Linked DNA regions of Homo sapiens: all the other regions are reported to be linked to region 1. Evidence: microRNA targets listed by miRTarBase, many of them from high-throughput screens and not tested one by one. Region 1 holds a microRNA gene; each other region holds the end of a gene's coding sequence.

The links. Region 1 holds the annotated microRNA hsa-miR-548am-5p (AAAAGUAAUUGCGGUUUUUGCC, at 1,137-1,158, shown strand). A microRNA usually pairs through its seed, bases 2 to 8, with sites in the 3' UTR of a target mRNA and lowers its output. Matches are read on the target gene's strand: a 7mer-m8 pairs with bases 2 to 8, a 7mer-A1 pairs with bases 2 to 7 and ends in A, and an 8mer does both.
Region 2: the mRNA of TMEM30B is a reported target of hsa-miR-548am-5p. Seed matches in the 3' UTR shown: 7mer-A1 at 182-188.
Region 3: miRTarBase lists NECTIN3 as a target of hsa-miR-548am-5p. Seed matches in the 3' UTR shown: 7mer-m8 at 392-398 and 7mer-A1 at 515-521.
Region 4: miRTarBase lists SLC43A3 as a target of hsa-miR-548am-5p. Seed matches in the 3' UTR shown: 7mer-m8 at 930-936.

The regions. Positions count from the first base shown.
Region 1 is chrX:16,625,213-16,628,212 of GRCh38, reverse strand. MIR548AM (microRNA 548am) reads left to right here and starts at 1,128; the gene lies at 1,128-1,201. All of the region lies in intron 14 of CTPS2 (CTP synthase 2), which reads left to right.
Region 2 is chr14:61,277,574-61,280,828 of GRCh38, forward strand. It overlaps TMEM30B (transmembrane protein 30B), which reads right to left. Exons shown (of 1, transcript NM_001017970.3): 1 at 1-3,255. The coding sequence ends at 2,519. It also overlaps a transcript of PRKCH not described here. Among named protein-coding and RNA genes, the nearest start is that of TMEM30B, 2.1 kb to the right of the region's middle. RefSeq lists an enhancer at 2,227-3,190.
Region 3 is chr3:111,133,941-111,136,940 of GRCh38, forward strand. It overlaps NECTIN3 (nectin cell adhesion molecule 3), which reads left to right. Exons shown (of 6, transcript NM_015480.3): 6 at 1-3,000. The coding sequence ends at 275. Among named protein-coding and RNA genes, the nearest start is that of NECTIN3, 64 kb to the left of the region's middle.
Region 4 is chr11:57,404,735-57,407,958 of GRCh38, reverse strand. It overlaps SLC43A3 (solute carrier family 43 member 3), which reads left to right. Exons shown (of 14, transcript NM_199329.3): 14 at 63-1,005. The coding sequence ends at 167. Among named protein-coding and RNA genes, the nearest start is that of PRG2, 16 kb to the right of the region's middle.

The DNA of each region.
Region 1 (3,000 bases):
AGAAATGAAATATTTTATAAAAATTGGAGAAATGACATTCTAAAATTCAAAAGTAAGAAATAAAGGAGAAATATAGGAGAAAGTAAAGGAGAAATAAAGGAGCCAGCTGTGGCTGGCTGCAACTCGGTGCTTTCTGCACACCAGTAATTAAGACATTGCTCTCATCACCCCTAGGACCCAGCCACCATTTTGCACAAAAGAAAGGAATCTTAGCAAAGTTAAGTCACTCATCCAGGTCACTTGTTAGAAAGTCATTGAGCTGACTCTTTGACCACCTCACTGTACCAAACGGCTGGACCTTAATCAAAGAAGAGGCAGAAAAACCCAAACAGCTCCCAGAGCTGGATGCTGCCCTCACTGAGAATCCTGAGAAAAGGTTTTGCAGGTTTCGGGGGTGTCTGGTGGGTGGAGAGCAGGGGGTGCAGAAAGCGAAGACCCTACCCCAGGCCTCTTCTGAAAGCCAGTCTGAAACCGCGGGTTTAGCTTAAGGATAGACACAAGCACTGAGTCAGTTTTGCACTGAGCATCTAGGCCAGTAGGGCATGCAGACAGGCAGGTGTGAGAAATGCCACAGCTTAAGCTCAACAATCAGCAGCAGCTACACTGAGCCTTAGAGTTAGAGAGGCAGTAAGGAGTGGTAGGGACTGTGGCAAATCAGCAAGCATGTGCCCCATCAAAGAAGTGACTTCCACAGCTGGTAGTTGTATCAAGAACTGTGGATTCACTGCTGCCAGTCTTCTAAATTTTCAAGAAAATCTGGAAATCTGGAGTTTTATGTAAAATCTCCTGACGTTTAAATGTTGGCAACTTATTTACATTTTTAAAATATTGTGTGTTTGCCAGCACTCTGCAAGCGAAATACAACAAATATCTGCACCCTGGGCAGCCTCTTAGGATCTTTGAATTAGATAAGCACTGAATTAGATAAGCATCAGCAAATTCTTGCACATACGAGAGGGCTCTGGTCCTTAAAATGCCTAATTAGCAGAAGGCATGGTTGCAGGTAGTCTTAAAAGTGAAGTAAATTAAGACACTGGTGCAAAAAGGACATTTGTGTAAAAGCAAGGCAATTCTACCAAGAAAAGAGGTAATGAAGCCCAGCAGGTAGTGGTTTTACTTTTTTATTAAGTTGGTGCAAAAGTAATTGCGGTTTTTGCCGTCGAAAATAATGGCAAAAACTGCAGTTACTTTTGTACCAATGTATTAGATGCTATGGGTGATTGCCTTTAGCCCCCTGGAAATAGGAGATATGGCACCGGGGGAAAGATAAGGATCAGAAGGTATAGAATGGGAGTGGACAGCTATGTGGGTGATAGCTTCCAGGGGAGCGAATGTGGGAGAAGAAAAGAGGGTACAGTCTTGGGCAGGGGTCCCCAGTTGAGGATGATGAACAGGTAGATGGGGCAAAAAGTGCCTGGAGGAGCAGAGGTCACAGAAGGGGAAGGGTGGCAGCTGAAGACAGACCTGCTGGATTTTAGAGAGCAGTTCTGTAAAGTCACAGGAACAAAAGCCAGGTTGCAAAGGGTGGGAGTGGGAGGTTTGAATAAAGGGTGAGTCAGAGCAAGAGGGCATCATGGACAAGAGTGGGGCTGGATGATTTTTGTTTTTTATTTTAAAAATTTTTAATTGTGGTAAAATATACATAACATAAAATGTACCATCTTAACCATTTCCTAGTGTACAGTTCAATTGTGTTAAGTACATTGCATTGTTGTACAGTCTCCAGAACTCTTCTCATCTTGCAAAACTAGAAACTATACCCATTAAATAGCAACTCCCCCTTCCCCTGGCCCCTGGCAACCACCATTCTATTTTCTTTCTTTCTTTTTTTTGAGACAGAGTCTCACTTTGTTGCCCAGATTGGAGTGCAGTGGCATGATCTTGGCTCAGTGCAACCTCTGCCTCCAGGTTCAAGCGATTCTCCTGCCTCAGCCTCCTGAGTAGCTGGGATTACAGGTGTCCACCACCACGCCCAGCTAATTTTTGTATATTTAGTAGAGATGGAGTTTCACCATGTTGGCCAGCCTGGTCTCGATCTCCTGACCTCAAGTGATCTGCCCCCCTTGGTCTCCCAAAGTGCTGGGATTACAGGCATGAGCCACCATGCCTGGCCTCTATTTTCTGCCTCTTTGGGTTTGACTACTCTAGATGATATGGACAGGAGACCGGGAAATACTGGGCAGAAGAGGGCGATTCTCTGGCAAAGGCCCGACCCTCAAGCCTGGAAACCTGTGGCCCTAAATAAGAACAAGCATTCCTGTTTTCACCCCCAAATGTTGCCTTTTGGCCCGCCATGCCCCCTATCCTGTACTATATAAACCCCAAACCCCAGGCTCCATGAGCAGAAGAGTGGTGTGGCAGAGAAGGAGAGAAGAGAAGGAGCATCTGAACATGGAGAGGAGTCCGGCTGGGGACCATTGGAGAGGAGATTGGCTGCTGGACGGCCAAACTCCAGGGGAAGATCATCTTCCCACTCCATCTCCTTCCTCCCCATCCATCCCACTGAGAGCCACCTCCACCACTCAATAAAATCCCCGCATTCACCATCCTTCAAGCCCATGTGTGACCTGATTCTTTCTGAATTCCGGACAAGAACCCAGGCACCAAGAAGGCACTGAGCTGGTTAACACTTAAGCCATCTATGGACGGCAGAGCTAAAAGAGCACTGTAGCAAGCCCAGTGGAGTTTCCGGAGTCACAGGCACCCACTCCTAGACACTACTGTGTGGCTGGAGCCCAAAAGTGTTCGCCCTGGATCCTGCACCTGCCCGTCTGTGTGCTCCCCCTCCCATAAGGGATTTGAGTGCACACAGTGGCTGAACAGATGAGCCATACCTCTGTTGCACGTCCTGTGAGGGGGGTCAGGGAACTCTCTCGTTTTATCGATACCTCCTTGAAGTAGAATCATACAGTATTTGTCCTTTTATGAGTGGCTTATTTCACTTAACATATTGTCCTCAAGGTTCATCCATATTGTAGCATGGGACAGGATTTCCTTCCT
Region 2 (3,255 bases), not on the chromosome of region 1:
AAACGTTTCCCATTTCAGTTTTAAAGTTTCTGCTGCTTTGAAGTCCAAAATATCCAATAAATAATTGCAATTTATAATTGAAGTAAAATGCAGAAGACTACTACAAAAATTTTTAAATTGACATTTATTAAATTCAAACAGTATTTGAGGACTATCTAGTTTATATACATGTTGAGGTTGATAAAGTATTGAGGACTATCTAGTTTATATACACGTTGAGGTTGATAAAGTTCAAATTCTGTTTTAGGAAGTTAACAATGAATTGAGTTCATTTTAACTGAATGTTACTATAAAAGATGGTTTTCTTGCTGCAATGTAAATCTGCTATTAAGAAATTAGCAAAGTGGCTGGTGGTGTTTGTGCCTTTAAGATCATCGTTCAAAAGAATTCAGCAAACTCGATAACAAAGGTAAGACAAACATAACCTTTATTCTCTCTCAAAAACCCAGAGAACAGGGCCTGGAACCATATTCGTTAATTTAACCAGAATCAGAATACTTTAACTTTCATAGTCTCATTTAAAATTTTATAGCAATATACTGACCATTCTAAAAATAACAAAATACATGTTGCTCTCAACTACATAGTTAAAAAAGGTAGTAAATTCTCTTACCCAAAATAGAGGAGGGGTGGGCTAGTGAGCTGCTCAAACATTTGTAACAAATAAAAATGTATCTATATACATATAATGATCATGTTTTCATAGCCTAAAATCACCATACAAAATCTAATAATAAAATTGTGTCGTGTTCAGGAGTTGGGAAGCCAACACATTAAATTAACAAAGTATTTTTGGTATATGTAAATAATGGGATAGAATCTCTCGAATCAGGATTGTCCCAGAAGTTCTAAGGCAGATGTCAATGACATGCACATTGTCCATGTTCAGTAATTTTCAAAGACTAGAATAAACTATGTAAACTATTCAATACAATTCAATATTACTTAACTGCTAAAAAGTACTTCAAGATCTTGCACTGCCTTGAGTGAGTATAATCAAGTTAGTAATTGGAAAATAGCTGTAATAGCAGGCACTGAAGAATTCTGACAAATACCAAATAACTGTTTGTTTTTACCAAATAAACTGGTAAGATGATATCACAAAGGGTTTTAAGTTATTTTGCTATACAAGGTTTTTAAAAATAAACTATTGCTTCTTAGAATAACTTTAAACATACTGATTGATGTTAATCAATAAAATCAATGGAATGATTTTAGTTGAGTGTAAACTTCATCTCAAAGGTTCAAATAATCTTAAGAATCTAGTTTACATATAAGACTATATATGCTTTAACATTGATTCAAATATGATTACTAGAAATCAATAGATTTCATTTGAAAAGATAAAAAAAATTTTTTTTCCAGGTCCAAGGGAAAAGGTATGAATGAAGCCCTTTCTAATCACACACACACACACACACACACACACACACACACACAATGACAAAGAACACTGAGCTAGGAGACATAGATGTGACTTTAGGGAACTTACTTTCCCTCGAAGATCTCTTCCAGCTATCTGATTCTACGTTAAAGCATTTCCTCTGAACTGTACAAACTGGCCTCACATTTTCGAGTTTCTACACAGTACCTGGCAAAGTTTGCCTGTTGGCTTTTACACCAAAATACTAAAATATCAAATGAATCACATAAACCCTGTCCTACAACTCTGTATGCCAACTAGTTTTCCCCAGATAGTAATTTTTTAAAAATTCATTCCACAAATCATCAAGAGCTTCCTACGTTCAAGGCAGAGTGCCAGACCAAACCTGGAACATCATGGTTGTCACTGCCCCTGGGAACAAATTACTATCCGAAAAAGTGAATTCAGTTGACTGCTTCAGGCCCAACCTGGTTCAGGGTCGTGATTCCCAAATTTGAGGGAATATGGGACTCTCCAGTGGAGTTTGTTAAAACACAGCTTCGAGGATCTCATCCCAGCCTTACTGTGTCTGAATCTCTGTTTGGTGTCTCCTAATCTACCTGCATATTTAACAAGCATGTTCTCCCTCACGCCTCCACGTCTCTGCAGGTAATTTGTGGGCCTCACTCTCCATTCCAGCCCACTCTCCCCGACCAAAGAAAAGAAAACCACTGTACTGTAGTGGCGAAAGCCCTGGACTCAAGATTCAGGAGTCACTTGCAGCTGCCTGATCTTTGTTACTTCACATTGCTAGGTCTCTCAATCTCTTCCTCTAATAGGGGTTTAATAGGAGTCTCCATAGGGATCCCTTCCACTCTCAGACTTGAAGAACCTCACATGGCAACTCAGTGTCGTGAAGGAGGTGGGAAGAGTTTGCAAGGATGTTTCACTCTGCAGTCAACATCCCTCCCCGCGGCAAGACAGTCTAGCAGCCCCCCAAGAGCAAGGGGGGTAATTCCCTTATCTGGTCCCCTCATTCACAAAGGGAGGAAAAGCTAGGCGAGGTTGGAATTGGGTGACGGGCGAGGAGGAGATGCCAAAAGCACCTTGCAAGAGTTTTGGCAAGAAGCAGGAGGGATCCCTGGAAAGCCGGAATCACTCCTCGTCGTCGTCGTCCTGGTCCTGGTAGCGAATGTAGACGACCAGCATGACAAAGCCGGTGAGGATGCAGAGGGAGCCGACGACCAGGTAGGCGATGCCCAGGAAGGGGTTCTTGCCACCCATCCACGAGATGCTGCTGAAGATGAGGAGCTTGTGGCCGCCGAACGCGCGCACCGGGTAGTTGTAGGTGATGTTGACGCGGTAGGCGCCCCGCGGCAGCCCGGCCGAGTAGTTGCCCTGGCGGATGCGCGCGTACAGTTTGCGGAACGTGGGCAGCGCCGCCGTGCGCATCCACACCACGAAGTCCTGATTGATGAAGCCGGTGTTGTTGGGGTCGGGGCTGAGCTCGTAGACTGGCCGGCGCCAGTTGGGCGGGGGCGCCGTGCCCTGGAAGGCCAACGCCAGGCTGCCGTTGACCAGCGGCGGGTTGCGGAACTTGACGTGGTAGTCGGTCCACCAGGCGATGCCGGAGCGGTCGAGCGGCACCTCGACGTAGGGCCCGCCGGGCTGGCGCTGGTGCCAAAGCGAGAAGGAGTCGTTGAAGAGGCTGTTGGCGATGGCGCCGCAGGGCGCGATGGGCAGGCCGGCCGCGCTGCGCTGGTAGGGGGCGCACTCGTTGACAGGGTGGCGCAGCGCGCTGGGGAGTCCGCTCAGCTGCGCGTCGTCGCGGGACACGCCGTAGCGCCGGTTGTTCTGGTAGAAGTTGGTCAGCTCGTAGTAGAGGTACACTG
Region 3 (3,000 bases), not on the chromosome of region 1:
AACAAGATGAGCTTGATTCTTACCCAGACAGTGTAAAAAAAGAAAACAAAAATCCAGTGAACAATCTAATACGTAAAGACTATTTAGAAGAGCCTGAAAAAACTCAGTGGAACAATGTAGAAAATCTCAATAGGTTTGAAAGACCAATGGATTATTATGAAGATCTAAAAATGGGAATGAAGTTTGTCAGTGATGAACATTATGATGAAAACGAAGATGACTTAGTTTCACATGTAGATGGTTCCGTAATTTCCAGGAGGGAGTGGTATGTTTAGCAACCACTGAATGTGACTTAACTATGTACAATGTTCATTCACACTAGTTGATCATTTTCAGATTGTTCATACTTTTTCTTGAGGAAGAATAAGCTTTTTCAAGTTGATTTTCAAGCTTACTTTTTATATTCTAATCTGACAAATGAAAATGTAAAATCTGAGTTCAGTGTATCTAAGCTGCTTTACAATTTTTTTTCAATGCTGTACTACTGTCTCAAGATTTAAATTTTAATGCAGAGTACTTTATTGGTGTGAGGCACACAGGTAAGAAGAAATGTCAACATTAAATGTATGACTTACTTGGTACAAAAATTTTTTAAAAAGGGAACTACCTTGACATTGTGTATTAAATGTTTACCTAAGACTATAATCTCAAGTATGATGTTTGTTTAACATATACCTCTCAAAATTTATCACCACTCAATGACACTGCATCAAAATTGACTATAAAACTAATTCAAGAAATATTTATATATATTTTTTAATATACAAAAAATATTTAGCCTGATGGAATGGCTTTCCTTTTCAAACATTATTTTCTAAGTTTCTATACAAATGAAATCTTTACCTCTGCATATTAATGAGCCTTGCCATAATTACTGTAGAGTGGCTTTTCAAAGATATTTTGTTGCACTAAAACTGTGGTAGTAAACTCAGTGAACATGATGTGTGGAAGAGCATAATTAGCTGGTCAATATTTTTGTCCAAAATACCTGCAAGAGTAATAAAATACATACCTTTCAAACATGATAATTATTAGTTTTTTTTTTTCCTTTCTGGAACATGGATTTTGGTACATTAGCAGTAGCCTTATTTTAATGCTTTATGTCCTAAACATACTAATAGAAATGAAAAGACGCAGAGAGAGCATTTCGGAATACTGAAGTACTAGTTTTAGAAATGAGACTTTCAGCCAACAATCTATAGAAAGAATTTTATGGACCATCTTGTTTTAGTTATTTAATGTTGATGTTGTTCAAATGGGTAAATGTACAGAAAGAAAATTTTAGAGTAAACTTGGAACTTTGGATATAACTAGAAAAAACTAGATTATAGAATTAGTCGGTAACACTTGCTAATGGACATTGGCATTCATCTCCTTTTTCCTCCTAAGTGTATGTATGTGTTTTAAGATTTCTGTTTTTACGATTAAAACTGGAAACATGAGGTTTTTTGTTTTTGTTTTTTTACATAATTACATATATTCCTTCTGAATCATTTATCTTTTGAGAAAGAAATGTTACCTAAACTTCAAATGTGCTTTTTGTTTGTGAGGTAATTAAATTGCTTCTACAGTGGAGGCTTACAAAATTATTGTGACAACTATTTTGAAGCTGAAAGGATAGTTTTTCTATTGCTAAGTCATTTGAAAAAGTGACCATTTTGCCAGTGAAATGAAGTGGAAGTTAGTAGGAGAATCATAAATTAAATATATTATTTTGTTAATAAAAAGGCAAAGTAGTAGGTACTTTTTAAACCCTCCCAACCAGCCCTTTCTCAATATTCATCAAATCTAAAACATTTAGGGGGCAAAATTCTAACATGTTCATGGTATCTTGCAAATAGTGAAAGCTTTATTCTGAAGGATTATAAACTAGTTTTCTTCATTTTAACTAGCACTATTTTGTGGAAATTAGAAACCTCTTTTATTTCTCTTCCCAAAAGTAATACTTATTATAAGGCTGTAGTATCAGGTTAAGGATACAGATAAATAAAGTTCACTTATATCTTCTTACAAATGTCTGGGTTTTAATATGGTTAATCACTTATATACAAATATTACAACTTTTTAGTGCAAGTTTTTGGAAGAAAACTTTTTGATAAAACACTGTGATTGATGTGACTTTATTTTTAATTTAAACGATGAGGTGGCCAGAAGAAAGATGGGTCTAAAATTTCTCCCCATGAAAGATGTAAAACTATGGCTTTTTTTAAAATCAAAATTTCATCTTTTAAAATAATGGTTTGAAATACTGTATGGATCTGAACAGAATAATCACATTTAGGATTCTATATAAATCTCAACTGGAGTATAATCTGAAGGAAATTAGCAGTGTATTTTAAGAAATATATTTCAAAAATATAAATACTGATTATGAACTTCCTTTTACATTGTGGTTATTTGTGCGATTAGGTTTTTTTGTTTGTTTCTTTTGTGTTTGTTTGGCGGGAGAGGGTGACCTGGAAAGCCACAAGTGAGTATTTGACATATTCTGTATCCTTAATCCAATCATTTGGCAAACTAAAAGGTTTCTGTGTTGTAAGAATCTGATACTAGTGCTTAAGACTTTGGGAAGCATTGCACTGTTGTTTATTAGAACTTTATGTATATTTACTGTACATAGAGACTTGTTTGAAAACATGAATAGTCATTAAATAAAGACATTGTTAAATTAGTTTTTGAATACCAGTGATATTCATAACTACTTGACAGGTATATATGAAAATTCTACTATCGTGAAAAAAAATGAATATTTGTACTATTTTTGGCCATATTTATATTTATTTCTTTCATATGGTTTGAACTGTTTTAGCATTTTGTAAATTCACTTGAGAGTTTTCTTTCATACTGGTTAAAATATTTCAATGATATAATGAAGATGAATGCAACTCTTATTTTTCTGCCATTTTTTATTAAAATACATTGAAACTAAAGTAGGCTCGGGGTTAACTTTAAAAGTGATATTTGAGAAGTGCTTTAGAGTTGAAAGATTTAGTATTTTAC
Region 4 (3,224 bases), not on the chromosome of region 1:
TTGAGCAACAGTTCTGTTGTTCAGAATTCCTGGATTTCACCTCACTTCTGCTCTCCCTGCAGGTGAATGTGATGTTCATGCTTGCCATTCTTCTGACATTCTTCCACCCCTTTCTGGTATATCGGGAATGCCGTACTTGGAAAGAAAGTCCCTCTGCAATTGCATAGTTCAGAAGCCCTCACTTTTCAGCCCCGAGGATGGTTTTGTTCATCTTCCACCACCTTTGAGGACCTCGTGTCCCAAAAGACTTTGCCTATCCCAGCAAAACACACACACACACACACACACACACAAAATAAAGACACACAAGGACGTCTGCGCAGCAAGAAAAGAATCTCAGTTGCCAAGCAGATTGATATCACACAGACTCAAAGCAAAGGCATGTGGAACTTCTTTATTTCAAAACAGAAGTGTCTCCTTGCACTTAGCCTTGGCAGACCCTTGACTCCAGGGGAGATGACCTGGGGGAGGAAGTGTGTCAACTATTTCTTTAGGCCTGTTTGGCTCCGAAGCCTATATGTGCCTGGATCCTCTGCCACGGGTTAAATTTTCAGGTGAAGAGTGAGGTTGTCATGGCCTCAGCTATGCTTCCTGGCTCTCCCTCAAGAGTGCAGCCTTGGCTAGAGAACTCACAGCTCTGGGAAAAAGAGGAGCAGACAGGGTTCCCTGGGCCCAGTCTCAGCCCAGCCACTGATGCTGGATGACCTTGGCCTGACCCTGGTCTGGTCTCAGAATCACTTTTCCCATCTGTAAAATTGAGATGAATTTTGGTGTTGAAAGTTCTTCCTGGAGCAGATGTCCTAGAAGGTTTTAGGAATAGTGACAGAGTCAGGCCACCCCAAGGGCCATGGGAGCCAGCTGACCTGCTTGACCGAAGGATTTCTGACAGACTATCTTTGGGGATGTTTTCAAGAAGGGATATAAGTTATTTACTTTGGGCATTTAAAAGAAAATTTCTCTCGGGAATAATTTTATAGAAAAATAAAGCTTCTGTGTCTAAGGCAACTACTGTTTCCATCTCTCTAGGCTTTGGGCCGGGGCTGTGTGTGTGTGTGTGTGTGTGTTTGTGTGTATGTGTATGTTTCTGAGGAGGCCCTACCCTGGCATGAGAGGGTAGGGAATCTGGCTACACATCTAGTGTGGCAGCTGGACCCAGAGGTGGGGCAGGAACCCTGACTATGATTCACCCCGCTGGTCCTGGGATGTGGGCCCAGAGACTTCCTCCCCCAGGAACCCCTCTGCTTCCTCTTCCTCTCCACATCCTTAACTAACTTTAGCAGAACCCTACTCCTCACTACACACCCCCAGCTAGAAGCGCTGGATGGAATCAGAAATTCCTAGTTTGAGTTTCAATTCTGCCCCTCAGCAGCTGGGCAAGCCCCTTAACCACTCTGAGTCACTAGTTCCCCACCTGCAAAGTGCAGTTAATCATTTCTATCTCTGATGGCGATTGTGAGAATGTAAAGTCATTGCAACTGCCTAGCACATGGTAGGAGCACATGAGGGTTTGCTCCTGTGTTTACTCATGACCCTTGGGGAGGACGGGGGCAAAGAGGGAGAAGTTGAGGGTGCAGGAGGAGAGATGGCAGGTGGGTGGGATGGGAGAATCTGGGGCACACCTGCTGTCTCATTCCCACCTTGCTAGGAGAGGGACTAGGAAAGAACAGTGGGAGGCAGGGGGATGGGGGTGGAAGGCAGGGGGTGGCAGGCAGGTTCATCCATCCATTCATTCAACAAATGTTTATTGAGCACCTGCCACGTGTCAGGCCCTGTCCTGGGTGCTGGGGCTATAAAGATGCAGAAGGGTCTGAAACCCAGCTCTTCCTTCTTCCTGTGGATGTCGGGGTGTAATTTCCAGGGGCCAGGAGCCTGGGTCTGAGGGCGGACACCAAAGTTCTAGTGGTGTCTATTAGCAGCGTTTAAATCTAATGGATGGATTTGGTCTTGTTACCCTGCTCAAAAGCTTTCAGCAGCTCCCCACTGTCCACAGGACAAAAATCCAGATGCTAGCCTGGCATTCAAGGCTGTCACTAGTGTGATCTCAACCTCTCCCCTTCCCTCTTTACCTCCTACCAACAGCGGGGCAGAGCCCACCCCTGTGGACCAAGATTCCCAGTCTCTGGGTCTGTGTGTGCACCAGTTCCTCTGCGTGGGTGGCTCACCCTGCCTCAGCTTGTGAAATCCATCTGGTCTGCTGGGATCCTGCTCAAAATGTCATCTTCTCCAAAAATCATTACTCAGGCTTTCCAGCATGTCTGAGTCCCTGGCACTTGGTCACACCCTTCCTGGTGACTGGCATTTGCCTCCACATCATGACCCTCCCACCCCTTGCCTGGGCAGCATACTCCAGGAGGCAAGGTCTGTTCTCGCCTGGCTCTAATTAATCTGTGCTTACCATCCACATGGTACCAGCTAATTCTTGTTGAATGAATGATCGTTGAATGAGTGGATTCTTGTTTTGGCCTCAGAACCAATTAGAAGGAGCCAGAAAAACACATGGGGGTGGGGGAGGTGCAGTGTGGTGCAGTGGAAAAAAACCCTTCTGGAAATCTCAGCTCTGTCACTTACTTTGTCAGCTCTGTGACTTTGGATGGACCACTTCTTTGTCAGTATGGTGGGAGAAATAGACATGCCTCTCTGGGCTGTTGTAAGGATTACAAATTAGGTCGAGTGCTTGGCATGTGGTGGGTTGAACAGATCACAGCTAGCATTACAGATGATATATTAAAGCCAAAAAAAGATGCCTAATGTCCACCAGTTGGTGAACGGACAAAGGAAATGTACCATATTTGGGATATTATTTGGCAATCAAAAAAAGTACTGACACCTGCTACAACACGGATGAATCTTGAAAACATTAGACTAAGTGAAAGAAGCCAGACACAAGAAACTGCTAATGATTCCATTTAAATATGAAATATCGGGCCAGGGTGCAGTGGCTCATGCCTGTAATCCCAGCACTTTGGGATGCCAAGGTGGGCAGATCACTTGAGGCCAGGAGTTCGTGACCAGCCTGGCCAACATGGCGAAACCCCGTCTCTACTAAAAATTAGCCGAGTGTAGTGGCATGCACCTGTAATCCCAGCTACTTGGTTGGCTGAGGCACAAGAATTGGTTGAGCCTGGCAGGTGGAGGTTGCAGTGAGCCAAGATCGTGCCACTGCACTCCAGCCTGGATGACACAGTGAGGTTCCGTCTCAAAAAAAAAAAAAAAAAAGGAAAAAG